Regions from separate parts of the Homo sapiens genome. Here regions 2, 3, 4 and 5 are each linked to region 1. Evidence: fine-mapped expression QTL. A gene starts in region 1. Each other region holds a variant in brackets. All regions are shown on one strand. Distances are from middle to middle.

Region 1 (5,992 bases):
TAATTTGCTATAGCTGCACTAAAAAACTAACACACTATTATTATAATTTGGTCAAGAAGCCCCACACTATGGAAAACAGGCTCCTGGCTTCTCACCATCTTCACTGCAGCCAGGCTACCCTCACAACTCAGTTTTCTAAGCAGATACTGGGATATTTGTGTGTGTGGTAGTGGAGTTGAGGGGACATTCAGGGCCCCACGAACAGCCAAAATAAGTTTGAAAATGCAAGAAGCTAGAGGCCTTGGCAGTCCAGCCAGAAGATGACATTTTCTGAGGTAGCTTCTTACTAACTGATCTAATCAAAATCTCAATCACACTGTGAGTTAGGAATTTTTGTCCACATTTTATAGAGAAAATGAAACTCATAAGGGATAAATGATCTGCCCAAGGCCTACAGAATCAAGGTTTGTGACTCAATTCAGAAATATAAGACAGTGAATTCAATTCCTCAGTGCCTGGGAGAGACCTGGCTCAAGTCTGAATCCATCATTCCTTTGCCAAAAACCTTTCGGTGACTTTCTGGCACCAAAGTCTCAAGGACGAGCACCTAAAGGAAAACATGCAATTCTTCAAGATCTGCCCTGACCAACCTCTTCAGCACCACGCTTTGACAAATTTCTCACAGCCTTCTCACTTCCGAGGTTTTACTTTGGTTGTCCCCTCTGGGTGATATTTCCCAAGACAGGCCCTGGCTAACTCCTCATTCTCAGTTCAATCATCTCCTATTCCAGGAGGCCTTTCTTAGATGCCTTAGATGGACGAGATAACCAACCCTCACTGTGCTCCCACAGCACTCGGTTCACATGTCAGTGATGCACCTTGCATCGTAATGATCTGGTGCCTCTCTTTTCTGCTAGCCTGCAAGTCCCATTAAAAATAAGGACACAGGCTTATCCACCTCTATCTACAGTGTCAGCAATATCACAAGTACTCACTACTAATTATTTCCTCAATTCAATCCCTAAACTAAAGATTGCTCAATTCAATCCCTGCTCTATAAATTACACCAGTGTGTGACCTCAGGCAAATCCCTGTACCTCGCTGTATCTTGGTTTCTTTACCTTTAAAATGGGCGTAAAAATAAAACTTACCTCACAGGGATATGGTGAGGATTAAATGTTACTTTACCTAAAGCACCTGGAACAGTGCCTGGCACACAGTAAACTCTCCAAGTGTCAGCTGCAACTGCCCTTGTTTTTATTATTCTTTCATTCATGAGATAAGACAAACAATGATAAGAGAGTCAACTACACTGTGAAGTGCAACAAAGCTGAATTTGGGAAGAAAAGGAAGTGCAGCCACGCTAAAAATCCTCATCGCACAAAGCAAGGCATCAAGAGACATGTCTAACCTGATGGATGGATGAGTAATAGATATTTTTAAGTATACTACTCAGAGATTATAACAGGATAATTAAAAACAAGAATATTACAGACACTGGAGAGGAGGAACAGATGATCTAAATTCCTTATTTTTCACAGTTGAGGCCTAGCAGATAGTCACTGGGGCAGGCAGGTCAAAAGGAGGAAAGTACACTCCTCAAATATACAGAGATACATGTGAGGAGTCCCAAAAACAAATCAATGAAGATGGTTACTCCTGGACAGAGAGGGAAGGTAGGACAGAGCAAAGACTTTGCTACTCATGTTATACACTACTATACTGTTTGAATTTTGAAAACTGTGTGTTACAAAGTTCCTTTGTCCCACCTGACAAATGAAAAAAAAAAAAGGAAAGGAAAAAACTCACAACATTAGAACAGAAATGGGGGCCAGGTGCAGTGGCTCACGCCTGTAATCCCAGCACTTTGGGAGGCCGAGGCGGTGGATCACCTGAGGTCAGGAGTTCGAGACCAACTTGTCCAACATGGCGAAACCCCATGTCTCTACTAAAAATAAAAAAATTAGTCGGGCTTGGTGGCGCGTGTCTGTAGTCCCAGCTACTTGGGAGGCTGAGGCAGGAGCATCGCTAGAACCCGGGAGGCAAAAGTTGCAGTGAGCCGAGACTGCCGAGATTGCTCCACCGCAGTCCAGCCTGGGAGACAGAGCCAGACTCCGTTTAAAAAAAAAAAACAAAAAAAGAAAAAAACAAAAAACAAAACCAAAAAAAGCCATGAAAGAGAGAGAAAAAAAAGAGATAAGACAAACAATGATAAGAGAATCAACTACACTTGAAACACAACAAAGCTGAATTTGGGAGGGAAAGGAAGTGCAGCTACGCTAAAAATCCTCATCCCACAAAGCGAGGCATCAAGAGACACTGTCTAACCTGATGGAAGGAGCAGTAATCCATTTAAAAACAAAAAAACAAAACAGAACAAAAAACAGCGAGAGAGAGAAAAAAGGATGATCCATTCGAGCCCACCGCATCTAATCATCTAATATTACGTACATTCACCTATTTTGCCTACCACGTGTCGGGTTCTGCGCTGGGCTCCAGGGAAACAAAAAAGTATGGCTGGGTCACCACTCCCCACTTACTGGATAAATGCTGTAAAGCCCTTTACCCACTCCGTATTCCTACTTGCCCTAAGGATGGGAGTGGGAATTGGAACGCAGGTCCGCAGATTAATATTCCCCATGTCTTCCCCAACAGTTTCCAGACTGGGAGAGGAATATAAATACAGTGTCGGACCATGTCCCGGGTCAACAACTAAAAAACAGTGATCGAATGAAAGAGGTTGTGGGAGCAGGGTATTCGCCACAAGGTGGGAGTTGTCATCTCCCCGAGAAGAGGTGTGTTAGGAGTCAGGTACCAAACAACCGGCCGTGAAACCGTAAGCAGTCACTATTCCTCTTTCCTCGGGATCAAATGGGGATAAGCCCAGGATCCCGCCCCCTTTGAGTTCAGAATTGGCCCGGAGTCCTGCCCCAGAGCAAAAATTCTTCGATCACCTCCAGGCATCTCTTCCCTACCTCACAGCTCCCGGCTGGTCTCATTTCAGATTCCCAAGTCCTGCCTCTGCACTCACCCCATTCGGGAGATTCTTCACGATCAGTCGCGACATGGCGCAGGGTCCCCGCTGTTTTGATTCCAACACGACTGGTCAGCGTCTTCCACCAAGTTTCACGCTACCGCCCTGGGCGCCGCCATCTTTACCGAGCCGGAACACAGTCACGTGGCTGAGACCTTGGCCTGACCTGTCCGGAAGTAGGCGTGGCTAATCCAAAACTACTCAGGGAGGTCACACCCCACAAGGGGTGGGCCTGGGCGCTTGCATTTTGCGCAGGCGCAGGGCCTTGGGCGGATTCTGTGAGACGCCAATGCAGCGGAGAAGGCGGCAGGGGGCGCCGGTCCCTAACATGCGCCGGTTTAGCTCGGTGTTAAGGGTCGCGCCAACCGGGCAATCGCGTTCTCTCCTTTTTCTTATTTTATTTTTATTATTGAGCCTTAGGACTCCCCTGAGAACGGGGGCAAGATTAGGGACCCTTGCCTTCCTCGTAGAAATGGGGAAAGTGAAGTTTAGAGAGATTGCCAGCCAACACAAATCAAGTATTGAGCCTTTTGTGTAAATACTTGGAATGAACATGTTGGAAATAAACGCTCTCATTTTGCAGGCAGATAAACTGGGAATCGTGCGTGTAAAGCAGCTTGCTCAAAGTCTTATAACTATGAATTGGAAAGTCAGATTCGAGCTAGGGACTGCCTAGGGCCCTACAATGAGTCTCTACGCCTTCAACCCCAGCCCCACAAGCATTTTGCCTCCCTTCCTAATGTTTGGAACTCTCAGCTGGCCAATCTTCTAGCTGAGAGATCTTGGCCAAAATGGCCTCTGAGCCTTTGTGTCTACTTCTATAAAATGGGAATAATTCTTTATTATGCTAGGGGTTAAGGAGGTGAGAACGTGAAAGGGATGTTATTTTCCTATTGCTTCTCTGAGCATTCTCGGTACCTACTCTTGGATGGAGACATCCTATGAAAACCCCTATTTTCACTCTTAAATGACGGTATTTCCTTTCTGTTTCCCCACAGTGCCTCAGCTGCACTGGACGTTGCTGCCAAGCTTCTGCAATTTCCTTCACCTAAAAGACATTCCGTCCCCCCTTCTTATTGTTAACAGCTTTATCACAAACCATGCAATTCACCCACTTAAAGTGCACAATTCAATGGTGCTGACTATATTTACAGAGGTGTGCAGCCATCACCACAATCAATGCTAGGACATTTTCATTACCCCCAAAGAAACACCACACCCTTTAGCTATAACCTTCCAATTCCTCCCTCTCCCTTCCCTCTGATAACCACTAATCTACTTTCCGTCTCTATGGATTTGTCTGTTATGGACATTTCATGTAAATGGAATAATACAATATGTAGTCTTTTGTAATTGACTTCTTTCACTTAGCATAATGTTTTCAAAGTTCTTCCATGTTGCAGCATGAATCAGCACTTTATTTATCTGTTTATTTATTTGAGACAGGGTCGGGCTCTGTCACCCCGACTGGAGTGCAGTGGCACAATCTCAGCTCACTGCAACCTCCGCCTCCCAGGCTCAAGCCATCCTCCCACCTCAGCCTCCTGAGCAGCTGGGACTACAGGCACATGCCACCATGCCTGGCTAATTTTTTTTTTTTGGTAATTTTTTGGTAGAGGCGAGGTTTCAACATGTTGCCCAGGCTGGTCTTGAACTCCTGGGCTCAAGCAATCCACCTGCCTTGAACTTTCAAAGTGCTGGGATTACAGACGTGAGCCACCACACTTTTTTTGCTGAATAGTATTACATATATGGATGTATTACATTTTATTTATTCATCAGTTGATGATGGACATTTGGGTTGTTTCCGCTTTGTGGCTACTGTGAATAATCTTGCCGTGAACATTTACCTGTAAGTTCCTGTGTGGGCATATGTTCTTATTTCTCTTGGATATATTCCTAGGAGTAGGATTGCCTGATCATATGGTAACTCTATGCTTAACCTTTTTAGAACCTGCTAACCTGTTATCCAAAGTGGCTTCCCCATTTTATATTCCTACCAGCGGTATATGAAGGTTCAAATATCTCCACATCTCCTCCAGTGTTTGTTATTGGGTCTTTATAATCATAGCCACTCTAGTGGGTGTACAGTGGTGACTCAATGTTTTGATTTGCATTTCCCCGATAACTAATGAAACAGCATCTTTCATGTGCTTTTGGCCACTGGAATATCTTTCTGAACCCATTCCCATCCCCTCTCTAAGACCAGCTCAAACATGGCATCCTCGAATATGCCTCTTTCCTACTGAGCCCCAAATGCAGGGAGCTCATGCATCTGCCACAGCATAAACCTACAGAACTCGCTGGTGAGGAGCGCACAGTGTAGGTTCAGAGTTATAGATGAGGCCACTTGTTCTTTCTACATTATGTTGCCATAGGGGCATCCTTAGATCCATCTTTGCAAAGCATCACACTGGGCACCAGGAGGAGACAGGTAATAGGAGTTCATTAAATGCTAATTGTAAATTAAGGTCTGTCCATTCAACAGAATTCTATGCAGTTGTTAAAAAACGGTAGGTATGTAGCTATAAATGTTTTTGAAGGAAATGCATCAGTCAGCAGGACACAGAGGTATACTCAAAAGGATTTAACAAAAGCAAATCTGGACAAAAAGCTATTTACAGAAGGGTGGGCAGTGTAGTGGGATGAATGATCCCCTGTCCCCTCACCACCACACACACTGGGGGCATCCTGACCCCTGGAAGCTGTAAATGTGACTTTATTTGCAAAAAAGTGTTGTATTAGTTTGTTCTCACGCTGCTAATGAAGACATACCTGAGACTGGGTAATTTATAAAGGAAAGAGATTTAATGGACTCACAGTTCCACATGGCTGGGGAGGCCTCACAATCATGGTGGAAGAGCAAGGGATGTCTTACCTGGTGGCAGGCAAAGAGAGAATGAGAACCAAGTGAAAGGCTTTCCCCTTATAAAACCATCAGATCTCGTGAGACTTATTCACTACCACGAAAACAGTATGGGGAAACCACCCCCATAATTCAATTATCTCCCACTGGGT
Region 2 (5,992 bases), 120 kb before region 1:
TGGCTGGTAAGTGGCTGTGGAGACAGTCAATCCCACAGAAATGCTGCCAGCTAAGTCTTTCCACTGTGGCGAGGCAATAGTGCTGTCTTTGGAACTCAATTTATTGAAGGGGGCTTCTCTCTAAGGCAGGGCAGAACCGCTGAGCCTGCACTCCTCGGCTGGCCCCGGGGTTGGGGGATGGGGGTGGCGGGGCAGATGGGCCCCCGTCTCCACTCCAGGGAGAGTCCCTTACACAAACATTTGCCGACGGGCGCATTTGGGCTTGTCAATGGTTGTCGATAAGGACAGGCTCTCTTTCTGCACATCAGGATTTGGGGTCTTATTGAGTTGTGAGCTTGCAACTGTGTATTTAGCCTTCATTTCTCTGGTTCCACATTTGCCTCAGCTCGAATATTCCCCAGTCTGAGACTGGGAGCCTGGCATGTGCCAGGTACTATGCTGGGCACGGGGGACCCAGGGAAGAACTGATCACTAAGAGAGATGAGCACGACACAGCCCCCATGTGGGGAAGGCACGGGTCCAGAGAGGATAACAAATCGTAAAGAAATAAGTTACAACGTGGCAAGAAGGCACGGTGACAGAAGAGGAGAGTAGAGGATGGAGAAATTACTGATACCTGTGGAGGGGGAGGGAAAGCGAAGGCTTCCTGGAGGAGGTGTCATTCTATCTGGGTTTTGAAGGCATTTATCAGGTTAAAAAAAAAAAGTGAGGGGCAAGGCATTCTAAGCAGAGGGAACAGCATGTGCAAAGGCACAGAATCCTGTCTGGAGTCTGGGGAACAATGAACTCTGTGGGAGGTGTGGTGGGAGGAAGGAGGAGTCTGGGAAGACCACAGTGTGGGCAGGAGGCAGTGTTCTGAAGCGTGTGGCAGCTGGGCTAGAATCAAGGGGCTTCCCTGCTATCTCTGGAGTTCCAAGTCCACTTGTGGGGGATGCAGTCCTGCTGCATTGCTGAGACGCTGCTTCTCAGAAGCCCAGTCGTTTCGCCCTAAGCAAGACCAGTGGCCCCACTGGAAGGCTCCTATCTCCATAAGAGAAACTGTTCCCAAGGTGCTGCCTGGTTTGGCAACAGAGCTGCACCGGTCAGGCGAGGGAATAATCACTCCTGGCTCCAGGTTCCATGTCTACGCAGAGAAGTGGGGTTGGGGGATGCTGGCAGCAAACACCCCTAGTCTGTACCCAGGTGACACCCGAGGCCCTGAGCTGCCCCACAGAGAAGGGATGGATGAGGGCACAATGGTGGCTCCATCCAGGAAAGGTCCTGAGACCTGGGACCCAGGCGACAATGAGGTGGGGAGGAATGCGGTGGCGTGCCAGGAAGACCTCAGAGCACCATGGGTGGCACCACAGACAGGACTGTTCCCCATCACGGAGCCTGGCTTTTCTGGGCATGCAAAAGGCAGAGAAGCTCCCCAGCTGGGTGAACCATCGCCAAGTAAGCGGGATCCAAAGTGGGTGGAAAGCCAGCAGCTGCCCTTTTGCTGCCGGGCCCAGGCCACAGTGGAAGCACTTCTGTGATGGGAGGCGGAGGTGTGGAGATGGGGATCAAGGTCAAGTACCCCTTGATATCCCAAGTTTGGAGGGTGTGTACCTGACAGCAAGGGGCACCTGCCATACTTTCCATGTGTCCAGGGTGGAGCGATTCTTGGGGCTGTCTCACCCTCTCCTCACCTGACTGAACACAACCTCTTGGAGAAGACGAGGCCCTGCTGACCTCATCTGCTCCCTCTCTCCTCCCCTCACCTCCAGCCATGCTGTCCTCCCTGTTTCTCACACATACCGAGCTTGCTCCAACCTGGGGGTCTCCCCTGCCCCTGGCCTCCTGCTTAGGCAGCCCTTTGTTGGGTACAGATGTCACCTCTGCAGTGAAGCCTCTCTAGCCCACCTGATGAGGAATGTGTCCCAGCCTCTTCCACCTGAGCCTAGGGCCCTGCTTGGTTACTGTCATGTGGGTGCATGAGGTCACAGCGGGCGCTCAGTATTTTCTGGCCACCACCTGAATAGTCACTGAGGCCACATGACACCACCAAGGTGGGTAAGAGGTGAGTGAGACCTGTGGGCATCAGCCCTCCGGCAGGAAGTGGACCGGGTCATGGAGGAAAGTGATCAGCAAGAGTGTGGTCCCCAGGGCTGGCCACCAGGAAGGCCGTGAGCATCCCTGCCCTGCGGACACCGGAATCTGAACACAGAGCACTGTGAGGACAGAGCCAACGGCCACGAGCTGTGACCTGGCAACCTGGCAGGCAGGGAGGGATAAACACTCTGACCTCTGTCTCTTCCTGCCAAGGCCCCCAGTGACCTAACCCGACTGCAACCCAAAGGGGCACAGAACCCAGATGCTTCCATGTAGGCCAGCCTCCCGGCAGGGAGTGCCCAAGGAAGGTGGACAGCAGGTCTGGAGGGGCTGTGGGAGGATGCCCAGCAGGAGGTGCTTGGCAGCCCTTGTGCCCATAGCCTGCTGGGTCGAGGGCAGTTCTCTCAGATGTCCCACCCACCTCTTGTGTTCCCCAGGGGGCCCATGAGTCAGCCCAAAAGACCGTCCCGCTCCTACCGTGAAAGTGAGCGGCCGTCTTCCGCCGCAGGGCCTGCAGGGTCACCTCGGAGTCGGCCCACTCCAGCACCAGCCTCCGCCCGTACAAGTGGGTGCTGTGACACAGGGCGTTGAAGGCTCTCTGCAGAGGGACAAGAAACGAAACTGCACATCAGCTGGATCAGTGCGGCAGACACTCCACTCTGCCTGCCAGCTGCCTGCCTGC[G/A]TCTCAGATGCCAAAGCCCAGGTTCTGGCCCCGTGACATCTGATCTCCAGCGAGGGTTTGGGGAGCGGTTGGGCACATCTATTTAATTAGTGGGTTGCATTCCCAGGGAGAAAGCTGCAAGTGACTGAGCAGTCAATATATCTGCCGTCTGGGCTGTAATTGGTGCCTGGGCTGAGGCAGCCGTCTATTTGCCGTGTGTCATCCGATCTGTGGAGGGCGACCCCATTAGTGGGCTCGCCTCCCACCCGGCTGTCTGCATGGCGGCCACTTGAGAAAGCCGAGCCCTGGCCGGCTGCTGGATGACAAGCGTGCAGGCCTCTGGGTGTCACTGGGTGTCGCTCTCCTTCACTGCCCTGGTGACTCTGTCCCCCACGCTGCTCTTGAAGGGGCCCCTTCTGTCTCTGCTGCCAGTGCCCTTCGCTTCCTCGCTGGTTCCCCCAGCCCTGCGCTCCCAACTCCCGCTCCCAGCTCCCACCCCCAGCTCAGCAGCCTGGGTCCTGGCACAGGCTGTTCCCGCTTACTCTTTGCTGTTCCCGACTCCCACATGCTGCCTGGTTCCCTCTTTCTGCTTTTTAACAGCTATACTGAGACAGAATTCACATACTATATACACTGCTTGTCTGAAGACAATTCAATGCGTTTTAGTATAATCGCAGAGCTGTGCAAAATGTCATCAAATCAATTTTAGAACATTTTCATCACCCCCAAAGGAAACCCCACACCCCTTAGCTAGCAGTCCCCCAGCCCCTGGCAACCACCAGTCTGCTTTCTGTCTCTATGGATTTGCATATTCTGGACATTTCATAGGAACGGAATCATACGGTAGTGATCAGTACCGTCTTAAACATCGCTAGGTCTCAAGTTCAATGGCACTGCACAGGGACGCCCTAACTTGATGGGCTCATCCCCAAACACTCCCACGGCACAGAGAGGCCGTGAGCTTAGTGGCCAAAAGCTTGGAGTCTGAGGTCACCCTGACCAGGAAGGACAGACCCCGCAGGTCCTAACTTGAAGATCTTGGGCAAGTTAAAGAAATCTTCCTGGACTCTGTTTCCTTATCCATAAAACGGGTATGTTCATATATGCCAATCTCAAGGGTTCTAGGGACAAAAATGAGTTAACAGCGTCTAGAACAGTATGGGCACACCATAATTACTCAATAGATGCTACTTCTCGTTGCTGTTGTTTTGTTACCGTAGACATCACATTTGCAGCTGCTTTCTCTCAGCAGACAGCTTTCGGGCAGGCATTAGTTTAAAGAGCAGTAGGCTCCAGGTGCTTGAGCATTGGCAGTGGAGAGCAACGGTGGCTAAGAAGGCCCTTTGCTTTGCTTCTGGGTTGCAGAGAGCACCAGTGGGTACAAGAAGAGGAGGGGTTTGCTGCTCTTGTTTCTTTTATGCTGTGAAGAATCATATAACTGGAAGGGTCTGGATGGGAACCCATCCAACTGTGCTCCTTATCTACACTGTAGCTCCTATGGTCAGACCCTGTCCCGCAAGAGGGGCCATGTTGAGTCCTAACCCCCTGTGCTTCAGTATGTGACCTTATTTGGAAATAGGTAGCTGCAGATGTAATCAGTCAAGACGAGGTCATACTGGAGAACAGCAGGCCCTGAGCCAATGACTAGTGTCATTGGATGGCCATGTGAAGACAGAGACACATGGCAAATGCCGTGGGGAGATGGAGGCAGAGACTGGGTGATGAGTCTACAAACCAAGGATGCCAACTGTCCCCAGCAGCCAGGGGAGAGGCACCAAACAGGATTTCCCTCGGAAGGAACCAATCCTGCCAGCACCTTGATTTTGGACTTCTGGCCTCCAGAACTGTGAGACACATTTCTGGATTTTTAAAATGTGTTTTGAGGCAAGGTCTCGCTGTCACCCAGGCTAGAGTGCAGTGGTGTGATCATGGCTCACTGCATCCTCGAACCCCTGGGCTCAAGCAATCCTCCCACCTTGGCCTACCGAGTAACTGGGACCACAGGCACATGCTGCAATGCCTCGCTAAGTTTTTAATTTTTTGTAGAGACGGGGTCTCCCTACATTGCCCAGGCTGGTCTTGAACTCCTGAACTCTAGTGATCCTCCTGCCTCAGCTTCCCAAAGTGCTGGGATTACAGGCCTGAGCCACTGTACCCAGCCCATTTCTGTGGTTTGAAGCCATCCGGTCTGTGGCGTTTTGTTATAGTAGCCCTAGGGAAAGGACGCAATGCCCTTGGGTAATCAACTGCCACATCTTGAGCCTCCGTTTCCTCATCCCTATTGGGGCTGGCTGTGAGATTTACACAAAACGAGCACAGAGGGCAGCACATAATACACATTCAATAAACAAATGAATCCGAAGAGACAAAAGGGAGGTGACTAGAACATGCATCTTTTTAAAACTAGACATGCAGCCAAATTAAAGAAACGCTTTGTTCTCTTCTGTGCTGTTCTGTGAAGGACCAGGTGCAGAAAATTTTTTCTTTCCTTTTTTTTTTAACTTTAATTTAAAAAACTCTTTCTGACTGCCAGCAGAGCCTCTGCATTTTTTTCCATGTGGATATAAAAATGCATCTGGACTCTGAGCCGAAATGGCCCATTCAGAGCTTTAAAACACACGCGTTCTCAGCTGGCGAGGCAGAGAAATGGCTTGACTGGGGGAGCTGGGGTTTTAAGATGGGGGAGAGGAATTGGTGGGGAGTCTGGTGTGGCGGATGTTCCATCCTCGTGCCAGGGTCCCTGAGGAGCTGTGGTCCCGGGGACACGGTGGGGTGGGGGTGGCCAAGGGGATGCATCTGGTGAATGCTAGGCTGGAACTCTCAAGAACGGAATAAGATCCCAGGAGGTAGGTCCGGGTGAGAGGCCCCAACCCCAGCCTCTCTGTTTCCCACTGTCAGATTTCAATGTTTCTTTCTCTCCCTTGGAAGCCAGTTCTCTATTCCCGTACCACAGAAAGCCCAGGAGATCTCTATTCATTGCAGGAGTCACTAAAAATTCCCTCTTTTGGCTTCTTTGCGACATCACCTCTCACAAATCTTTCTCTCTTCCCTCTGCACTCCTCTGACACGTTATTGGCCTCTCTCTGGAAGAGCTCTTCATGGTAAGAGGGGTGGTGGCATGGCAGTTTAGAGGGTGGGCTCTGCTGCTGGCCTGCCTTGGTTCAAATCCCTGCTCCAGTGCTTATGAGCTGTGTGATCTCAGGCAAGCTGCTGAACCTCTCTGAGCCCGAGCTTCCTCATATGTAAAAGGAGGGCAGC
Region 3 (5,992 bases), 140 kb before region 1:
TCCCTCCTGCAGTCTGACTGTGTGTATCCTATAGTAGAGATGCCAGGGCCCTCCTCACCCATCCAGGGGTGGACCCTTGGTGGAGACGCCACGTGGGACAGAGGGAGAGGGCGGGATGCCTGGAGTTTCTCTTCTACCAGCCTTCCAGGCGCCCGCTAGTGCCCACTGCTGGCCAAACTGAACACAAGCCTCTTGATAAGGGAGTTTCAGAGACACAGCTCAAGGGGCCAGGCCCCTGAGACCCACAGCGGGTGGGAGACGGACGTGAGGACAGCAGATGCGGTTCCAGCCAGCCCTCCACTCTGGAAACAGCCTGTCCCCGTTCCTCCCAGCTAACTGAGCCACACTCTGAACACCGGGTCACAGGCCTCATCCAGATGTGTGCCTCTGGCTTTTCTGAGGCACGTGTCCTACTGACCTCCCACCTCCCTGTGTCCCTTTGGCCCCTCTGGCCTCTTGGTGTCACCTCTCCTTTCCTACGCAAGTGCTCTGGTCCAGCCTGTTATGGTTCTCTTTCCCGGCTCTCTGGTGACCATATCGGCAGGGAAGGGTCACAGCCCCCTGAGATGTGGCTGAGGCAGTTTCCTGCCCCCTGCAGCAGTCAGTCCTGAGCCGGGTCAGGAGGCTCACCGCCCTGGAGGAGTGCTCCCTCCTCAGTGCCACCTCTGTGGGTTATTTCTGGAGTTTCTCTCCCAGATCTTCTGGGTGTCTGTGTCTACCAACGTCCCATCATTGCTTCAAAAACAACCGAAGCCGCCTTTCAGAAAGCTCCCGTGTCCCCCTCCCAGTGACAGCGGTGACTCAGTCCCTTGCTGCCTTGGCTCAAAGGCTTAGAGTCTCCCAGTTCAACCCCCACATGCTGGATGGAGGAATTTCTCGTAAGACGCTTTCACCAGTCCCTCTTCTCCAAAGGAAGAAGAGATGAAGCCCCTCCTCTGGGCCAGGCAAATGACTTTTCCCGAGCTCCGCTTTATGGCTACCTGGCTGTACTTTACTGCATTCTAGAACAATGATGATGATTGTAACAAAAATCTTAATTGCTTTCCTAGTTCCCGTTTAAAACAGTTATTTTTGACAGGGTAAAAGGCTCTGGGTCACTGAGATCTTGCTCACACTCCAGGTTGTCCCCTGTACTGAGTGCTGTGACTGAGAGGGACAGGGGATGGGGGATAGGGGGTTGGGGCTGGGTGTAAAGAGGAGCTGGGTGTGGTTACTGCAGACGAACTGATCAGGAGTCTGTCTCCCTCAGTGAGGAAGCAGAAGTTAAACCGGGGCATCCAAACTTTTGGCTTCCCTGGGTCACCCTGGAAGAACTGTCTTGGACCACACATAAAATACAATAACACTAGTGATAACTGATGAACTAAAAAAAAAAAAAAAAATTGCAAATTTAAGGAAGTTTACAAATTTGTGTTGGGCTGCATTCAAAGCCCAAGCTTGGGTTGGACAAGCGTGATTTAAGATCTCAAAGGAAAATAAAAAGGCGCCACGCAGGAAGAATGTGAGGGAAGGGCATCCCAGGCAGAGGGAAGAGGCAGCTCGAGGGCCCTGGGGTGGGAGCCTGCAGGGAGGAAGGCCGGGACAGCGAGTGCAGGGTCAGGTGAGGTGGGGCCTCGGTGCTGGGGTGAGCAGCGGGACTCGACTTTCCATGCGTCAGGGAGGCCCTAGAGGGTTTGAAGCTGCAGACTGACATGATCCAGCTCACGGATCAGTCAGGCCACACTGGCTGCACGAGGACAGCTGAGCCGGAAGAGAGGAGATGAGGGTGCAGTCTGGTGGGCGCGGCATGAAGGGGCACCCTGAGATCTCTGTGGGAGTGGACTCCACTACTCCTGTGTGCTCACAGATCTGCCCCTTCCAAACAGTGCGTGCCTGGGGCAGGGGTGCAGGGGCCAGGCTCAGTATATGGCCTCTAGGCTGCCTCACTCCCCACTGCCAATTCCAGGCCAGGCCTGGCGAGTGGCTGGAAGCTCTCCCTCCTCTTGCTACCTTTCACTCTCCTGCAGTTCCTGAACCTTCCCCAGCTCACCAGCTTTCTTTTGGCCACAGGGAAGGCAGTGACGCAGGAAGGGTTGGACAGCCCTGATTCCCATCATTTCACTGTGTGAGCCCTGGCAGGGGCCTGCAGCTGCCTGGGCCTGATAACGCTTTTGTGACGGAGATGCTACTTGCATCACTCCATTTTAAAGATGAGGAGACTGAGGACTCAGCAGGTTAAGTCACTTGCCGAGGCTCACGAGGCTGGAGAGTGGTGGACTGTTACGGAGCCCAGGCAGATCCGAATACAGAGCCCATGTCTGCTCACCCCGCACCAAGCCCTGGATGATGCTGAATCCTGCTCTGGGGGGAGGTTCTAGAAGCATCCTCTGGGCCAGTTAAGTCAGTGCCAAAAGATGCCTGCCTCTGCACCAGGCCCGTGGGTCTACACCTGAGTTTTGGTGATCAGCCAGCCATCCCTGCTGGCTCTGGTGGTGTGGAAATGTGAGTACAAATTGTATAGACCAGAAGGTTCAGCCAGAAGGAGCCATGTGCCGCCGAACAGGACACGATCCAGCTCACAGATCTGAGCAGTGGGAAGGCATGGGGTAGGTCTCCAGCCCTGTCATTCCGCATGACCTACGGCAACTTGGGACCCTGGTCACCTGAGGGTCGGCCTGGGTGTGGTTTAACAGAGACACTGTTCAGCCCCCACATCCAGAAGGCTGTGGTTGATGTGACTCTGTGAGCCACCCCACTATAAAAGCTGGAGAATGTGGCTGGGCGTGATGGCTCACACCTGTAATTCCAGAGCTTTGGGAGGCTAAGGTGGGAGGACCACTTGAGGCTGCAGTGAGCTATGATCATGCCACTGCACCCTGTCTCTAAAAAAATTAAAAATAAACGGCTGGGGAACGAGCCATTCTGTGTCTTTTGTTTCCACGAATTCTCAGGGATGAGCTTGGATGGCTAAGGGGGTGCCTGCCCTAGAGGACACGAGGCGCATGCTTGGTCGTGCAGGCTGCCAGCTCTGTGTTGCCTTGCCTGGGCTCTGGGCCACTCCGAAAACTGGATGAAGACTGGAACCTCATCCCCACCAAAATGCACAGACCATGTTTTATGCACAGAGTCTGAAGATTCCCAAACTCTCACTTGGAGGCCCACCCAGTGACTCTAAATGAAGAAGAAAACAAAAGTGCTGATGAGAATCTTCTCTGGGCTTTACTTGGCTTGACTCACTTAATTCTGGCACTGTCTATCTGAGGTAGGCACAATTATCACCCCCATTTCCTAGAGAGAAAAACAGAGGCTCAGCCAGGATGTCATTAGTCTGAGGTCGCACCTCGGGGAATGGCGATGTCTAGATTCAGACTGCAGTGAGATGCAGTGCAGTTCTTGCTCTGCCCTCTCCGTCTTGCCCTCTGCCTGGTGCTGGCACAGGCCCTTCCAGGCGGGAGGCTGCGTCTCAGGCTGGAGAAAATGTGAACACGGGCGCCTGAGAGAAGCCTGGGGATGCTGCTGGCCAGCGGAGAGGACCTTGATGCATTTCACAGGGCTCTGGGCCCGTGAGCAGAACG[C/T]GTCCACCATGAGTGACATCATTCAGCTCAGCCAGGGAGCTTGGCATCTGGGCTTGGAGCTCGATGCTTCATGAGCCGCTGGGAGGCTTCCCTGGGTGACTGAACCAGGGCTCGTGGTCCCAAGTGACGAGGATGGGGCAGGACAGAGACCAAGTCCCAAGCCGTGAACAGTCCCTTGGAAAGACATAGGTGGGAATTCTAGCTCAGCAGCCCTGGAGGGAGAGCAGGAACAGGGCTCAGCACCATGCCCGGCACTCTTCATGCATTACTGCGTTTATTTCTCTCTAAAACCTTATGAAGTAAGAACTAGCTAGCAAGGGGAAGGCTGGGCCCAAGGAGATAAGGAAACTGGGCCAGGGTCTCCCAGCTTGAGCTTGGAGACGGGGTTTCATGTCCAAGCAGCCTGATGCCAGAGAGCTGGCCCTCGTCCCCTTACTCTCCTGGGGTGGGGACAGGGGGAGCAGGGGTTCTAGCTCCCTGTGTAGCTGTTCCCAAGTCTCTCTTCCTAACGTGGCTGCTCCCTTGGACTCTTCCGTGTCTGCTACAGAGCAGGTGCGCAGTCAGTGTCTGCTAGAACGCGTCACTGGTGAAACCCAGGATGCCTGGGCCGCTGGGCAGTGGCCTGAGGCCTTCCTCATCCCCTGTCTCCTCCGACCTTGGACCAGTGCAGGGTGGGGCCGCCTGCCGCTCCCCGCCCCGCCCCCCAGCCCACATGGTGGTGAGTGCAGAAGCTGGAGCGGCTGTCCCGGTCCCCAGGGCCCCGGAGCCACACACCCTCTCGGTGCCAGCTCACAGCTGAAGGGTCTGCTCCTCGCTGTCGCTGTCACTGCCTTCCAGCTGCTCCAGGATCTCGTCCAACACCACAGACCGCTTTTTCTTCGGGGGCTCTGTGGGAGCCCAGATGGCAAGAGAGGAGAAAAGAACAGCCGAGAGGGTTGGGAGGCAGGAAGAGAGAAATGACAGAGGAAGGAGGGAGAGGGGAGAGATGAGCAGAACAAGGGTGCGGGGAGACAGAACAGAAGCGAGAGAATGCAAGAGAGGGAAGTTGGGGAGAGCGGAGGGAGAGAAGATACAGAGGGAGGTGGAGAGAGGATGGGGCAATGAAGAAAGATAAGGAGTAGGGGAGAGAATCAAAGGGGAAATGAGGAGGAGAGAGAAACACTAGAGTTAGTCTCAGCATCACCATGGCGGGGCTGCCTCCCTCGCACCCCCAGAAACTCTCCTGCTTCCCTGGCCATCCCCTCCCCATCTTCTACCCGCAGGGGAAAGGATTCCCTTGAGAAAAAAGAGAGAAAGGGTCTCCTGTGCTGCTTCCTCACAGCAGGTCAGAGCTTGGCTTGGAGGAAGCTGAAACCCTTCAGAGAGGCTGGACCAAGCAGTGGACAACGGCTGGGGAGACAAGTAGAAGTTGTTTCTGTTTTCTTGGAGGCCAGGCTAATGGTGCAGTACATGGCTGGCATACAACAGGTGCTCGATAAGTGGTGGGTGAATAGAACAGATGCAAAGCTCAAGGATTCCAGAGGAGGCGTGGAGGGAATGACAATTAGAGGTGGCTTTGAAGAGGAGGACTATTTGACTTGGGCTTTGAAGAATGCAGAGGAGTTTTCTGTGAGGAGAGGGGATTCAGGGTCATGAAGAAAAGCACGGAGGTAGGAAAGGGCATGGTGGGCTTAGCCCCACAAGCACCTCCTGATTAGGTACCATCATGAACCATGGCTCCACTCCTGTCAGCAACCCCACAGGCAGGTGGTATGCTGCCTCTTGTAGGAGACGGAACTGAGGCACGGACAGGCAGGTCTGAAGTCACTCAGCTAAGAAGCGGTGGAGCCAGGATTCGAACCCCAGTCACACCTAAGCCCACAGTCTTTCTGCTTTTTATGAAAGTCTCGGGTTCTAGGCAGAGAACTCCAAGGGGATCAATGGTGGCAGGAGAGGACGTGTGGGGCCCCTTGGCCCTCCAGGAAAAGAGCGAGGTTGGAATCCAGGCTGGCTTCCTCTGTCAGTCCCTCTGCTAGTCTAACCACTTGTCGATGAGCAGCCTTGCTCACAGATAAGGCTTGATTTGTACAGAGGCAGTGTAAAGAGGCTGTCCAAATCCCCTCCCTTTCCATGGCTCAAACACCTCCCCAAATAAACCACCCTGAGGCCCTTTACCTCCATTTATCCGCAGGCTGTGAGCTCCCTGGAGCTCACAGCAGCGGCCTAGCCTTTTCTACTGAGACCTCCCCAGGGCTAGCACAGTGCCTGGCCCAGAGATGAAGACTTGGTTTCCCTCTGCGTGTTCCTGGGTGAGCGATTTCACCTCTCTGAGCCTGTTTCTTCAATCTCGTCCCTCCCAAATCAATTCAAACATTGAACCCGTTTCTCATCATCTCCACGGCTGCACCCCAATCCAAGTACCTCTCAGCCCCTCACTAGAGACCCCCCTCCCACCAAGG
Region 4 (5,992 bases), 100 kb before region 1:
TGAAGGCAGGACAGTGTGTAAATGCGGCATTATGAATCCTCAAAATGAATCTGCACGTCTCCTCGGAGCTCTCCCCAGCAGCTCTGCTCCCCCCTCCTGGTGCCTCCTCTGTGCAGGCAACGAGAAACGGCAGAGAGGCACTGGTGACAAGGCCAGCCTCCCGGGGAGGGGAAGGAGCCAGGAACGTGGGGAGTGGAGCCCGGTCAGGTTTCCCTGCTGGAGGGGGGCCAGGGCTGGGGACCAGAGGCTGGGCAGGTGGGGACAAGGTGAGGTTGGAGAGCTGAGGAGTCAAGCCCACAAACCCTACTTCATTCTGCCACCTAAAGGCGGATGCATCCCATGACAGACACAGTCTCTCTTCCCTCCACCAAAGCCCCTCTGCCATGCTGGCTTTGAACAGGGAGGGAAGGGCGTGGACAAATTTTCTTGTAAGCTCGTTCAGATGAATGGTTCTTTGGGTCCAAGTCTTCAGAAGCCCACTGGGACTACAGGGATGGCACATCCGGCAGCTAAGGGGCTGGAGCCTGAGAGCGTTCAGAGCTGGTATGAGGCAACTGAGAGGCACATGGAAGACCAGGCTGGGTGCTTTCTCAACACGGCCATAGACAGCCACTGGGTGAGCTGGTTCCTCTGTCCGTGCCTTGGCCTCACCTAACTGCACTAGCCCCGAGATGTCTTTCCTGACCCCTGGAGGCTGGGGTGACTGCCCCCATCCACAGTGTCACCGCTCACTGTGCCCCCTGACCAGGGCTCTGTGGGGTGCATGCCTTCCCTGGCCAGGGCTAGGGCTCAGCTCCGCAAGAGTCCAGGCCCCATCTATCTTGCTCATCACTGGACCTGTGTCAGTGAGCCCAGGAGTCGGGCTCAGGGTAGAAGCCTGAAGGTGTTTTGGAACGAATAAACAAGCAAATGGTAGCCCTGGAAGGTAGACATTACCACGGGTAAATTACACCTACCCTCAGAGGGCGGTGATGAGGGTGAAATGAAATACACATAGCACAAATGTGAACTATTGTTAGCCTTATCATTCCCATGTTACAGATGAAGAAACCAAGGCTCTGGGAGCCAGGGATCCTTCCTCACAGGCAACAGGGTTAGAATGTGAATCCAGGCATGTCTGACGTTAAGCCCAAGCTCTCTTTCTGCTGCACAATGACTCAACCCGCTTGCATCATCTGGACGGGGACTGGCCACTTGCAAGAGCTGGGGCCTCTTTCTTCCCGAGTCTCGGCCAGGTCTGAGGTGAAGCAGGAAGGCCCCATACGGGGTGGCTAGGAATGCCCTGTGTGGACTCCCAGGGGTCCAGTGACTTCCCTAAGACCACCAGGCAAGGTGGGGGTAGACCGAGTCCCAGTTCCTTCTGCCCACACTGTGTGCAAACCCTCTACTTCTGCCCACAAGGGCTATAATCTCCTATCCCTTGATGGTCTCAATGACCTCTGCCCAGATTTCTGGTAAGCCAGACTCTGTGTGTGTGTGTGTGTGTGTGTGTGTGTGTGTGTGTGTGAAGGAGAGAAGGGGTCGGGGGGTGGTGGTGTGAGAGAGAAAGAGAGAAGGAGAGAAAGAGAGAGAGAGAGAAAGAGACTGTTGGGGTTAATTCCTCCCTCTCTGCAGCACACTGCAAGCTGTGGATGCTCTGTGCATGGTAAGCAGCTAAGGGTCCGGAGAAAGGCGAGAAAAATAATTAAAAGGTAGAGAAAAACGCTGTTGAGGAGAGGCTACAGAAGACATGCTTTTGTGGCCTGCAAAAGTGGCATTTGAGAGTTCAGCAGGGAAAGCTGGGACAGAAGGGCACCCTGGATCTACCAGGGATCGTAGGCAGGGATCAGGGAGCTGGGGATCCCATCCCAGGCAGCTGAAGGGCCTTGGGGGAGGTCACAGCTGTGGTTGGGGGTTTCCAGGCAGACATCAGCATGACAAATGAAACGCCACCCACAAAGACTCTAGAAGCTTCAGAAATCCTATTATTCTTCAGAGTCAGAGAAATGGCTACAGTGAGCAGGTTTCTTTCCTCCTTCTAAGAACAGGACATGAGAGAACTGAAGCTTAAGGAGGAGCTGAAAGATCAGGGTTAGATCTTAGAAGGAACTTCCCGATGTCTGTGGACACTTCCTGAAATGCATGGATGAGGCTTCAAGACACCATCATTGCTGCCATCATTTCCGCTACCAATGAGTGCCTGCAATATGCAGTCTTTTAAATACATCATATCCATGCCTCTGTTTTACAGATGGGAAAACCAAGGGACGGAGAAGAAAAGCGACTTGCCCATGTCTCATGGCCCCAGGAACTCAAAATCGAGGCGAGATCTTTCTCATCCGGGCTGCTTCTCCCAGCCCAAGAACAAAGCTGGACAGTGAGTGGCTTGGTTGCTTGTATAACGGTGTGGGATCATATAAGGCCAATACTAATGATCTCAGAGAGCTATCGAAAGAGAATTAAAAAGAAAAAAAAAGGTTGGGGGAGAAGAAATCGATGAAGTACCTTTAGCTCCTTGGAGATAAGCGATATATAAATACCAGCCATTATTAAGGTTCTTATCTGACAGCAAGGTCTACGAAGCTGTTTTTAAGAGCAGCTTTTGAAGGAAGTTGTGCATGAACCTTTGTCTCCTGGGAGCTGAGGCCAGTGTTGGGGCGAAGCTGCGCAGGGCCACCAGGGACTGGGGAGGAAGAAAATCACAGGGCACCCAGGAACTCCTCCCTGAGCCCAACTCTGCCGCTCGGGGGGAAGGAGATGCACACCACACTCCCCACTGTGCAGATAATAGAAACCACAAAGTAGCAATTACTGTATCAGAAGCTGTGAATAAAGAGGACATACCGGGCTTTTAAACACAGCCCTCCTTCCCTCCCCCACCAGGCTCACACTTCGGTAACAAACTCACACCTCACTTTTCCAATTATTTCATTCACCCTGGGTTCACCAATTACTCCCCCACCCTGCAGCCCCACCCCCTCTGCCATGCCAGGAACATGATTGGTGGTGGGTTTGTGGGTTTTCCACAACTAGAGTTTGTTGTCACGTTTCTAATTTCTTTTGAGGTGTGTGGTGGGGGGAGAGAAGGGAGGAGGGGGGAGGAGGTGGGATGGGGCTCCGAGGTGTTGCATGAGGCAAGCCAATTATGCCCAGCACTCATAAACAAGTCGGGGGATGGAAATCGTGTTTGCACACAGGCCTGAAGGCAGACACAATACGTGTGT[CTG/C]TGTGTGTGTGTGTGTGTGTGTGTGGGGCCAGCGTATGGGTGGGTGGGGATTTCCTCTCTCCGTGCAAATTGCGTGCCCCCTGACTGGTCTTGCCCCAGCCCTGGCCAGCAGCTGCTACCGAAAAGGGATGAATCATCTTGGGTCTCTCTCTCCCTCCCTGACTGAAGCGACAGGCTCAGGGGGAAAGAAGTGAGAGGAAGGCTGGAGCAGAGGAAGCGAGAACCCTCCAGAGATGCGGAGCTGGACAGTTTTGCAGCTGTGCTGGTACCTGGAGCCTGGGCAGGCTGGGAGTCCTGCTTAACCCCACAGCCTGCATGCTGGCACCAAGTGGGGGTCAAACCTAGGGCCTTCTGCTCCCAGGACATAAGTCCCCCTCACTATTCGGATCTGCTGGAAGAACCAGAATCCCAGCAGAAGTGCTGAGTCATGTGGGGGAGTTTGCTGGCATAACTTCTCCCCACCTGCACCCAAGGCATTGTTGAGAAAAGAAAGTCTGCTGCCACCTAAGAGACCCAGAATCAGAACAACGGTGTGATCTGAACAAGATGAAGGGGTGGTTTCATGATAAGAATAAACTACAAGCTTCTTCTGCTCCTTCTAGAGGTAAGAAAAAATAGCTCAATCTCTTGGCATTAAAAAGCCTTTCAAATATGCCACCCCTACCAATTTTCTAACACACATGATGCACATACACGCACATCTGTCCATTCACTGGGTACTTCCTCAGCGCTTACGTGCCCTGCAGCATGTTAGCACCTGCTGGACATGAACTCACAAGGCCCATGTGAGCTGAGCAATGTCAATCCCATTTCCTAGATGGAGAAAACTGAGGCTCAAAGAAGGAACATGATTTCTCCAAGGTCTCGGTGAGCCCTTACCTACCACAACAGGCGAAGTGACTTGCCCAAGGTTCCATGGGCAGCATCAGGCTTAGCTAGGCTCAAAGTAGGCGGTGTGCCCCACAGGTCTATGCTTTGCTAAGAGCTCACACGATTGGTCCACCTATCTACAAGCAGCCAAAGATGATGCAGAGTGCAGGGAGGGAGTCACCAGCAGGTCAAGTATTAACCTTGCCCTCACCTTGATTGGGGGCAGCTGCATGGGAAGCCTCTTAGCTGGGAAGCAGCCAGTGAGCTCCCTCCCCTCTTCCTCAGATGCTCAAGAAGACTATGGGATAAAGCCACTTATCTCAACTGATAAAGGTATAGAGCTGAGGATGCCTGATCTTTGCTTACTGCTCCCCTGGCCCCATCCTAAAGAAGGGCCCCACCAGTGAACTTATGGACCCATGGAACCATTCCCACTGAGCAAGAAATATGGTAAGATGGCAGCTGCCTTGCATGGTGTCCTGTCTCACATTCCTCTTCCCTTACAGAGTTCCCATGTGGCCAAGGGCCCCAGTTGTGGCAAGTTGGAGAGATAGACCAACTGCACAGCTAGGAACAAACCTATCCCTTCATCTATAATGGGCAATTTCTGTAGTGGAGGGAGGCTTGGGAACAGAACTATCATCTAAAATTCTCACTTTTCCTGAGATACATACAAACTAAAGCCTTTGGTGAGGGCTTGTCTCAAGCCTGTCTCATCCAACTCTCTAACAGAGGCTAATCCAATCAGTCTGGTGGGTTTCAATGGGTACTAGTGCCCCAAGTTTCACAAATATGTGCTAGTCATCGCCACTCCCACAGTGGGTTTCAATGGCTACTACTGTCCCCAGTTTCATGAATATCTGTCAGTCATCACCATTCCCACAGTGGGTTTCAATGGCCACTACTGCCTGGAGTTCTGTGTGTATGTGCCAGTCATCATCTCTTCCAAATTGCTTAACTCTCTAATGGTTTTTGCATCCTTAGAATAATTTCTGAGCTCCTTACTTGGGAATCAAGGCTGTGCCTGATCAGACATACTTTTCTTGCTCTCCAATCTTATCTCATGCCCTGCACCCCCTCATTTACTATGAAGAATCCACACTGGCTTTCCCCATTCCCTGAACCCACCAAACGTATGCTTACCTCAGGGCCTTTGCACTTGCTTTTTGTATCACCTGGAACCCTGCTTGCCTAGATGTTTTCACAATTGACTCTTTCTTGCCATTCAATTCTCAGCTGAAATGCCACCTCCTCAAAGAGGCCTTCTGTGACCATCCTATCTAACGTTGCCTCCTTTGCACACCCACCCCTGCCTGTCACATCTGAGCACTGTCTGAAATGGCTTGTTTACTTATTTATCTTTCCTCTCATTTTGCTAGAGACTGAAAGTGGACTCCAAGATGTCATGGCTCTTATACTCTGTTGTGTCTACAGAACCTGAGACTGTGTCTAGCACTCAGAAAACACTGTATCCATTCATTTAATCATGAATTCATCATCTATTGACATCTCCCCGAGTGCCAGGTCCCTATACTTCTCATGCATTATCTCATATAACTGTATGTTCTTGTGGAAGCATAGTCACACTTGGGGGCAACATATTCAGTCTTTCTGTCCCATAGGATGATGCTCTTTTATGCAGTGCAACCATATGCTATTACAAGGAGCATTTGGTCCTCAAGAATCAACACTCTTTCCAAAGTATCCATGTTTATTCCTTCCAGGCAATGAATCATCACAGCAAGAAAAAAAAAAAGGGGGCAGGGGGGCCAGCTAGATCATTTACCAAGGGAATACTGTCTGGATAATGATGTTCAAATCATGTGCTGCTTGGTGGGAACGAGAAGACACTGGCTCCTTCACAGGCAACCCTGGCCAAGATGCAGACACAAATAAGGAGTTTCAGCATGGTTTGCC
Region 5 (5,992 bases), 140 kb before region 1:
CTAGCAAGTGCTTGTGAAATATCCCAGAAAGGGGAATGAGCGGACGGAGCAAGGGTGAGAGAGAGACGGCAGAGCCTGCCCCATGGTGAGCGTGCAGAAGGTGCGGGAGGTGCCCACCTGCCTGCCACCTGAGAGCCTCAAGGCCTTGCAGCTCTACCCATCATTGTTAATCATGAAAAGGGAGAGGGGGACAGGGTGGGCTGGGGTGGTGGGGGCTGGCGGCCCGGGGCTCGGACTCCGGCTTCCTCTCCTTCCTTGTGACCTCCTAGACACTCTTGGTTTCCTTATAATCGCCAGCCCTGGAGGTGCACAATGGCCTCTGGAAATTGAATTTGTGGGCAGGTAATAGGAACTGGAAAATAGAACGCAACAAAACAGGGCCCACAGGCGATCACTGACGCCCCTCCCATCTGCTAATATGAGTTGGGGATGGCAGCTCACTCCTGGGGCAGGGTCCCTGCCTTCCTGGGCCAGGCCTGGCCTGGGGTCTAAGGGATGGCCAGCGGTGGCGGCATGGGACTTTTTCTTCTCTCCCACATCCTGACAACTTGGAGGGACTGGCGAGGGGCGAGTTCTAGCCCCATCCATTGTGTCGGCTCAACCTGTAAGATAGAGCTGGACTTGGGGTGCTTCTTCCCCATGCTCCTGCACCCCTGGGCCGTGCCACCATTGCCTCTGGCTTCCTCTGCCCTCCTCCCAGGAGTCTGGTCTCAAACGGCAGCCAGAGGGAGCTTGTTAAATCCTCCATCACGGCATGCTGTTCCTTTGCTCAAGCCTCCAGGGGCACCATCTCACCTGGGGAAAAGCTAAAGCTGTCACGTCGGCTGCCAGGGCTACTGAGCAGGCCCTGCCACCTCTCTGCTTCCCTCCCACTCTGCTCAGGCACTCGGGCCCCTTGCTGGCTCCTGGCTTCCAGCACTCCCACCTCAGGGCCTTGCACCTGCTGTTCCTTTGGTCTGGAATGCTCTTCCTCCACGGAGCCACTCAGGGGCCTTACCTTTTCAGTGAAGCTTCCCTCCTTATTTAAAATTCCAAGTCCTCCAGAGTGCCCTGATGTACACTTCCTAATCCCTTTCCTGTCCACTTCCCCCACAGCATGTCTCCCGGTCTCACTGTGTGTCATGTTTCCACTTTATTATCTGTCTTCCTGGCTGGAACATCTGCTCTAGGAGGGCAGGGGTTTCTGCCTGTTTTGTCCACTGTTCCATTCCCAATGCCCAGAACTGTGCCTGGCACATAGTAGATGCTCAATAAATGTGTGCTGAGCGACTGAGGGAGTGAATGACAGGGAAAATTGAGGGTCAAGTAGTGTAGGTTGCTGAAGGACAAACAGCAGCTGAGACGAGGCCAAGAGCAGTTGTTCAGAGCCTTCATCCATGCTCTCATCCCCTCACATGACGGAGACACCTGCAGCACCTGCTCTGGGTCGGGCATGGTGGGGAACAAGCCTGGCTTGGCCCCACCTAAGGCTTTCTGGTCTGGCAGGGGGAGATGGAGAAAGAACCAGATAGTTGTGCCTCAATTTCTAACCTGTAAAATGGAAATACTAGGGGTTGTGGTGAGGCTGAAATGAGTAAAAAGGGCAATGCCCAGCCCCTGGCTCAGTCGATGGTGCTGAGACCAACACCTGTGTTACTATTATTGATAGGAAAGGTGTTGACTTCGTGTCTCTCTTGGTCTTTGGGGCAGTGAGCACTCATGGGGCGGGGGCTCTTACGCGGAGCCTGGCTTTGTGGCCTTGATGAACCAAAACATCTCATTCCTTTACCTGCCAACTATGTACTCATGTATCATAAGCCAGCCTCCGTGCTCCTGGGCCTGGCATATCTGCCAGGGTTCAGGCTGGGCCCCCAACTGCCCCCTGGAGGACATGTCAGGCCCCGAGTTCCCACCGAATGACACCCCGCACCTCCCGCTGGCCCTGCTTCCTTGAGGAGCACCCTGTTTGCAGCGAACAGCTGCTGAAATCCCACTTCCCCGACATCAAAAGCCTCAGTGGGTTTTCACCAAACAAACATAATGCAGAACCGGAGAAAGGTGTAAAATAAATAAACGAAACAAGCTGTGCATTTTCTTTCAGTATTACAGCTGCACCCGAAGATAAACAACAAGTGAATGTCACCAAACATCAATACCCGAGAAATTAACTTGACAAAAAGCTCAGCCATCCCCCGACAACCCCCCAGTCCTGCCC[C/T]CCTCCCCACCAACCTCCAACCACCATTTTTGCATTTCTGGAGTTCCCACCTAATGATTTTATTTTTCAATTAATTCCTTGACAGAATGCCAGCCTGTGTCTCTCCCTTCCCTGGCTGGCGCTGTCGGCCCTGCATGGGAGGCGCAGGCAGGCAGGGAGAAAGGCGCAGGCAGGGAGAAAGGGCGGGGGGGCGGGGGGGTGCGTCGGGAGGACAAGAGAAAGCGCTTCTTGGGGTTTTGTTCTGGAAGCAGACGTTGAGGAAAGGCAAGCCGGGGGAGAAGAGCGTGGCTGATAAGGGGAGAAGGGAGTTCTGAAAGGAACCCTGGGATGAGGCAGGCGTGAACAGTCCGGGGAGGGGAAAAGCACTGGGCCAGGAAGCCCAGGGCTGGATTCTGAGTGGAGAGGCCTGAGGTACAGGGTGGAGGGTGCTAGATGCAGGGTGCTGGGTGGGTGAGCTGCCAGGATCAAACCCTGCTGCTCCTGGCTGGGCAACCTTGGGTAAGTTGCTTCACCTCTCTGGGCTCCTCTCAGTTTCTGCAGTTACTGAATGGTGATGAAATCTACACGCCTAGGGTGTGTGAGGGTATTAAAAGAATGAATATATGTATGTAAGGCCCTCACAATAGTGCCTAGCACACGGCAAGCTGTCAATATAGGTTGGTCATTCTTACTGCTGTTGATGGAATCTGTTACTGAGAGCACGAGGGTGGGCTGCTCCCCTCCTCTATAACACGATGATAGCAACAGCAGCTCTCGACTCTGTCTCAAAAAAAAAAAAAAAAAAAAAAGTGACCAATGGGATGGAGCAGGGCCTCCCACTGTGGGCCCACAGAAGAGTGTCTGGATTTGCTGACATGATTTGCCATGAATACAGAAATCAGTGACTAATGTTCAAAAACAGGGAGATGCTACATAAGAATCTGCACCTCTCGTTTCTCTTGAACCTGGAATGGCTAACCTGTGAGTGTGGCAGACCTGTCCCCTCCCTGCCTACAGGTAACTGATGAGGCTGTGCACTAGCTGCCCCTGGAGACACGCAGCCTCACTTATGGGGGCTTTTCTTCCTGTTCCTGGAGGCTCCTGAGTTGCTACTTCCCGAGACACAGGATAGGCAAGGCTTCCACAAACTCCGCTAAGTCGGAGACAGAACTGATTCCAAGAGGCCGGGGTGAAGGGCAGGGGGCGGGGGCACAGGTGGGCGAGGGGAGGAAGGAGGTTGGGGCAGAGTGTGGAGGCCAGAATGAGGCTCCACAATCTTCAGACTCAGTGGTGTGCAGTCCTAGGCTGCTGGGGGACACCAGCCACCTGTAGCTCCCACCCTTGGGGAGTATGAGGGTGCCATGATGTGGGTACCGCAGGGGGGCTGGGCACCCGGGGGCTGGCCTGGCTTGGGAGGCTGCCTGCTCTGGAAGGCTGGCTGAACCAGACCCCCACCCTCAGCTGCTGGTGCCTCTGCATGGGTCTCTCCCTGTCCTCCCTGGCTTCATATCTTGCAGCCCCCACGGGCAGAGCTCTCCTACCCAGATAGGTCTGCATCTCAGGGCTCTGTGTACAGCAGGCACACATCAGGTACGCACAGAATAAAGGGTACTCTTCAGGAGACTGGCCTGGCTCCTAAGACCAAGCCAATGTCCCTTTATTGATACAGGAGGCTGTTTTAGGGCTGTGCCTTTTTTTTTTTTTAAATAGACAGAATCACACTGTCACCCAGGTGAGTGCAGTGGAGCGATCTCGGCTCACTGCAACCTCTGCTTTCCGGGTTTGAGTGATTCTTGTGCCTCAGCCTCCCAAGTAGCTGGGATTACAGGCGTACACCACCAGGCCCAACTAATTTTTGTATTTTTAGTAGAAATGAGATTTCACCATGTTGGACATGAGCTCAAGTGATCCACCCGCCTTGGCCTCCTAACGTGCTGGGATTATAGGCATGAGCCACTACGTCCAGCCAGTTGTGCCTTTTTAAAACACAGCGAGTCCTTCTAAGAACTAGGTATGATCTGAGAGGGTCCTTGTGCAGAGCGGGTGGGCAGGAGCCTGGGCCGCAGACTGGCCTCTGCCACTGTGGGACTCCCAGGAGCTGCTAAGCTCCTTACCTCAGTGTTCCCACCTGTTAAACGGGGACGGTGCCTGCTCTGCTTATCTCATGGGGACCGTAAGGATTCCTGCCTTCAGTCACTCTTAGCAAGCATGACCCAGCATATTCTATGTGCCAGGAATGATGCTGGGGATATGGCAGTGAACAAAACTCCACAGGATAAACTAAACCACCAGCCATGGGGGCCACACTGGGGCTCAGGGTGGACAGGACGAGGTGGGACCTGAGTGCTGCCACTTGGTGGTCCCAGCCTTCTCTGAGTTACCAAAGTTACTCTTCTGCAGACAGGACACAGTAGTAGCACCCACCACAGGGGATTTGATGAGATAAAGCATGAGAGCACTTAGCCCAGGGCCCGGCCCGTTGAGGTGCCAGGCAAACATGAAAGCTAACAATCAAAGGGTCCTGTGAGGCCACCCCAGAGGACAGGCAGTGCCCAGCAAAGGGGAAATCCAGCTGCCCAAGATAAGGCCAAGGGGCGAGCTGCAGGGACCACTCCTCAGGCGCCTGCTGGCTCTAAGCAGCAGGCTGGCTCTGGACTTTCCTACAGAAATTCCACCAGCTAGGCAACATCATTGTCCCACTTTTCAGATGAGGAAGCAGCCGCACTAGGACTCTGAAGAGTCAAGTGGTCACACTTTCCAAGCAGGACCTTGAGCTCAGATAGGGTTGGCTCCAGCCTTACTGGCACAGCATAGCAAAGCCTGCCCCGCAGAGGGGGACACTAGCCCAGCCTCCCTAGGATGGGGGTCTCAACAGGAAAAGCATGAACAGACCCAGGCTATGTAGCAGCAATTTCCTTTTCAAAGGCCATTGGTTCTCAATCCAGCTGTCTGGTAGCATCAGCTAGGAACCCACTGATGCCTGGATCCTACCTCCAGAGGTTCTGATGCAAATGGCCTGGGGTGAGCACGGGATATGATGACTGCTATGATGACTGATGTTATTAATCTTGGTGCTGAGGACCTGGGCTCCCTGAGTGGCTGGAGAGTGGGTCGGTGGGTGGAGTAACTTCCCTCTGTGCTCTGGGTGTCTTGTGTGTGTGCAGAATTCTATGACTGGCCACGCACAACCCCATACACAGGGGCTGGTGAAGGTGCTGCAGCCCTGATACCCATGGAGTTACCCTGAGCTAGGGCTGCGGGGCGGGGGGGGGGGGGGTGGGCTATGCCTGGGGGCTTCTAGACTTGGTCCCACATGTTTGTATTAGTTACAGATACTGGCAGACCTGTGCGGCTGGGAAGCAAGGGGAGTGTCCCGGTGAGGGTGACTCACTGCAGAGGGAAAAGGGAAAAAGAACCAGGAAAGGTGGGAAGGCATCCCCTACTCCTCTGCCTCAGGTCTGGAGGAATCCCCCAAGTCTTAGGGTTTGGTCCACATTAGTTACTGATCTCTTTTCTTTTGGCATAGGCCCTGGGTTGGAAAGCAGAGGCTGAAAGGGAGCAGCTGGTAACATCTCATAGGGCCAAGGTATAGTGGTGTCTGTACCAGGCTGTGTAAGTGCAAAGGCTCGAGGGTCCAGATAGGAATATGATGGCATCAAACAGTCCAGGGGGTCGGGGGAGACTACAGGGAGGGCTATGCATTGTGCGTAAGGGGAAGCCCAGCCTTCGTATAAACGTGCAGCCATTCCTTGGGCCTGGTGCCCTGTGGGAATGTGGAACCAGGCTGGCCAAATCTGATTTTTCAGAAGAGGTCAGAAT

Direction of the effects. Alleles are on the strand shown, and positions count from the first base shown. SD is a standard deviation of normalised expression in the study named. Not every link is listed here.
For the expression in follicular helper T cells of the gene that starts at base 3,105 in region 1, A is the low allele of the variant in region 2 and G is the other (large effect, 0.83 SD a copy in Schmiedel 2018).
In carriers of allele C in region 4, the expression in Th1 cells of the gene that starts at base 3,105 in region 1 tends to be lower than with CTG alone (moderate effect, 0.65 SD a copy in Schmiedel 2018).

What was found. PIP is the estimated chance that this variant, and not a neighbour inherited with it, causes the effect. A credible set is the group of variants that fine-mapping cannot tell apart.
Region 2: its variant is the best candidate, but not a certain one, in a credible set for the expression of RBM19 in follicular helper T cells (Schmiedel 2018, PIP 0.80).
Region 3: its variant is the best candidate, but not a certain one, in a credible set for the expression of RBM19 in thyroid (GTEx, PIP 0.71).
Region 4: its variant is the best candidate, but not a certain one, in a credible set for the expression of RBM19 in Th1 cells (Schmiedel 2018, PIP 0.63).
Region 5: its variant is the best candidate, but not a certain one, in a credible set for the expression of RBM19 in whole blood (INTERVAL, PIP 0.77).

Annotation. Positions count from the first base shown.
Region 1 is chr12:113,963,221-113,969,212 of GRCh38, forward strand. RBM19 (RNA binding motif protein 19) reads right to left here and starts at 3,105. Exons shown (of 24, transcript NM_016196.4): 1 at 2,972-3,105. The coding sequence starts at 3,007. RefSeq lists enhancers at 1,527-2,455, 2,456-3,383, 3,342-3,411.
Region 2 is chr12:113,842,118-113,848,109 of GRCh38, forward strand. RBM19 (RNA binding motif protein 19) reads right to left here. Exons shown (of 24, transcript NM_016196.4): 23 at 2,551-2,671. Among named protein-coding and RNA genes, the nearest start is that of LINC01234, 71 kb to the left of the region's middle. The variant G/A (reference allele first, on the strand shown) is at 2,756.
Region 3 is chr12:113,818,881-113,824,872 of GRCh38, forward strand. RBM19 (RNA binding motif protein 19) reads right to left here. Exons shown (of 24, transcript NM_016196.4): 24 at 3,177-4,441. The coding sequence ends at 4,344. Among named protein-coding and RNA genes, the nearest start is that of LINC01234, 48 kb to the left of the region's middle. RefSeq lists an enhancer at 1-921. The variant C/T (reference allele first, on the strand shown) is at 3,555.
Region 4 is chr12:113,860,008-113,865,999 of GRCh38, forward strand. All of the region lies in intron 21 of RBM19 (RNA binding motif protein 19), which reads right to left. It overlaps LOC124903025 (a long non-coding RNA gene), which reads left to right and starts at 1,964. Exons shown (of 2, transcript XR_007063468.1): 1 at 1,964-3,809; 2 at 4,361-5,992. RefSeq lists enhancers at 2,980-4,179, 3,430-4,028 and a silencer at 3,189-3,298. The variant CTG/C (reference allele first, on the strand shown) is at 3,204.
Region 5 is chr12:113,825,140-113,831,131 of GRCh38, forward strand. All of the region lies in intron 23 of RBM19 (RNA binding motif protein 19), which reads right to left. Among named protein-coding and RNA genes, the nearest start is that of LINC01234, 54 kb to the left of the region's middle. The variant C/T (reference allele first, on the strand shown) is at 2,195.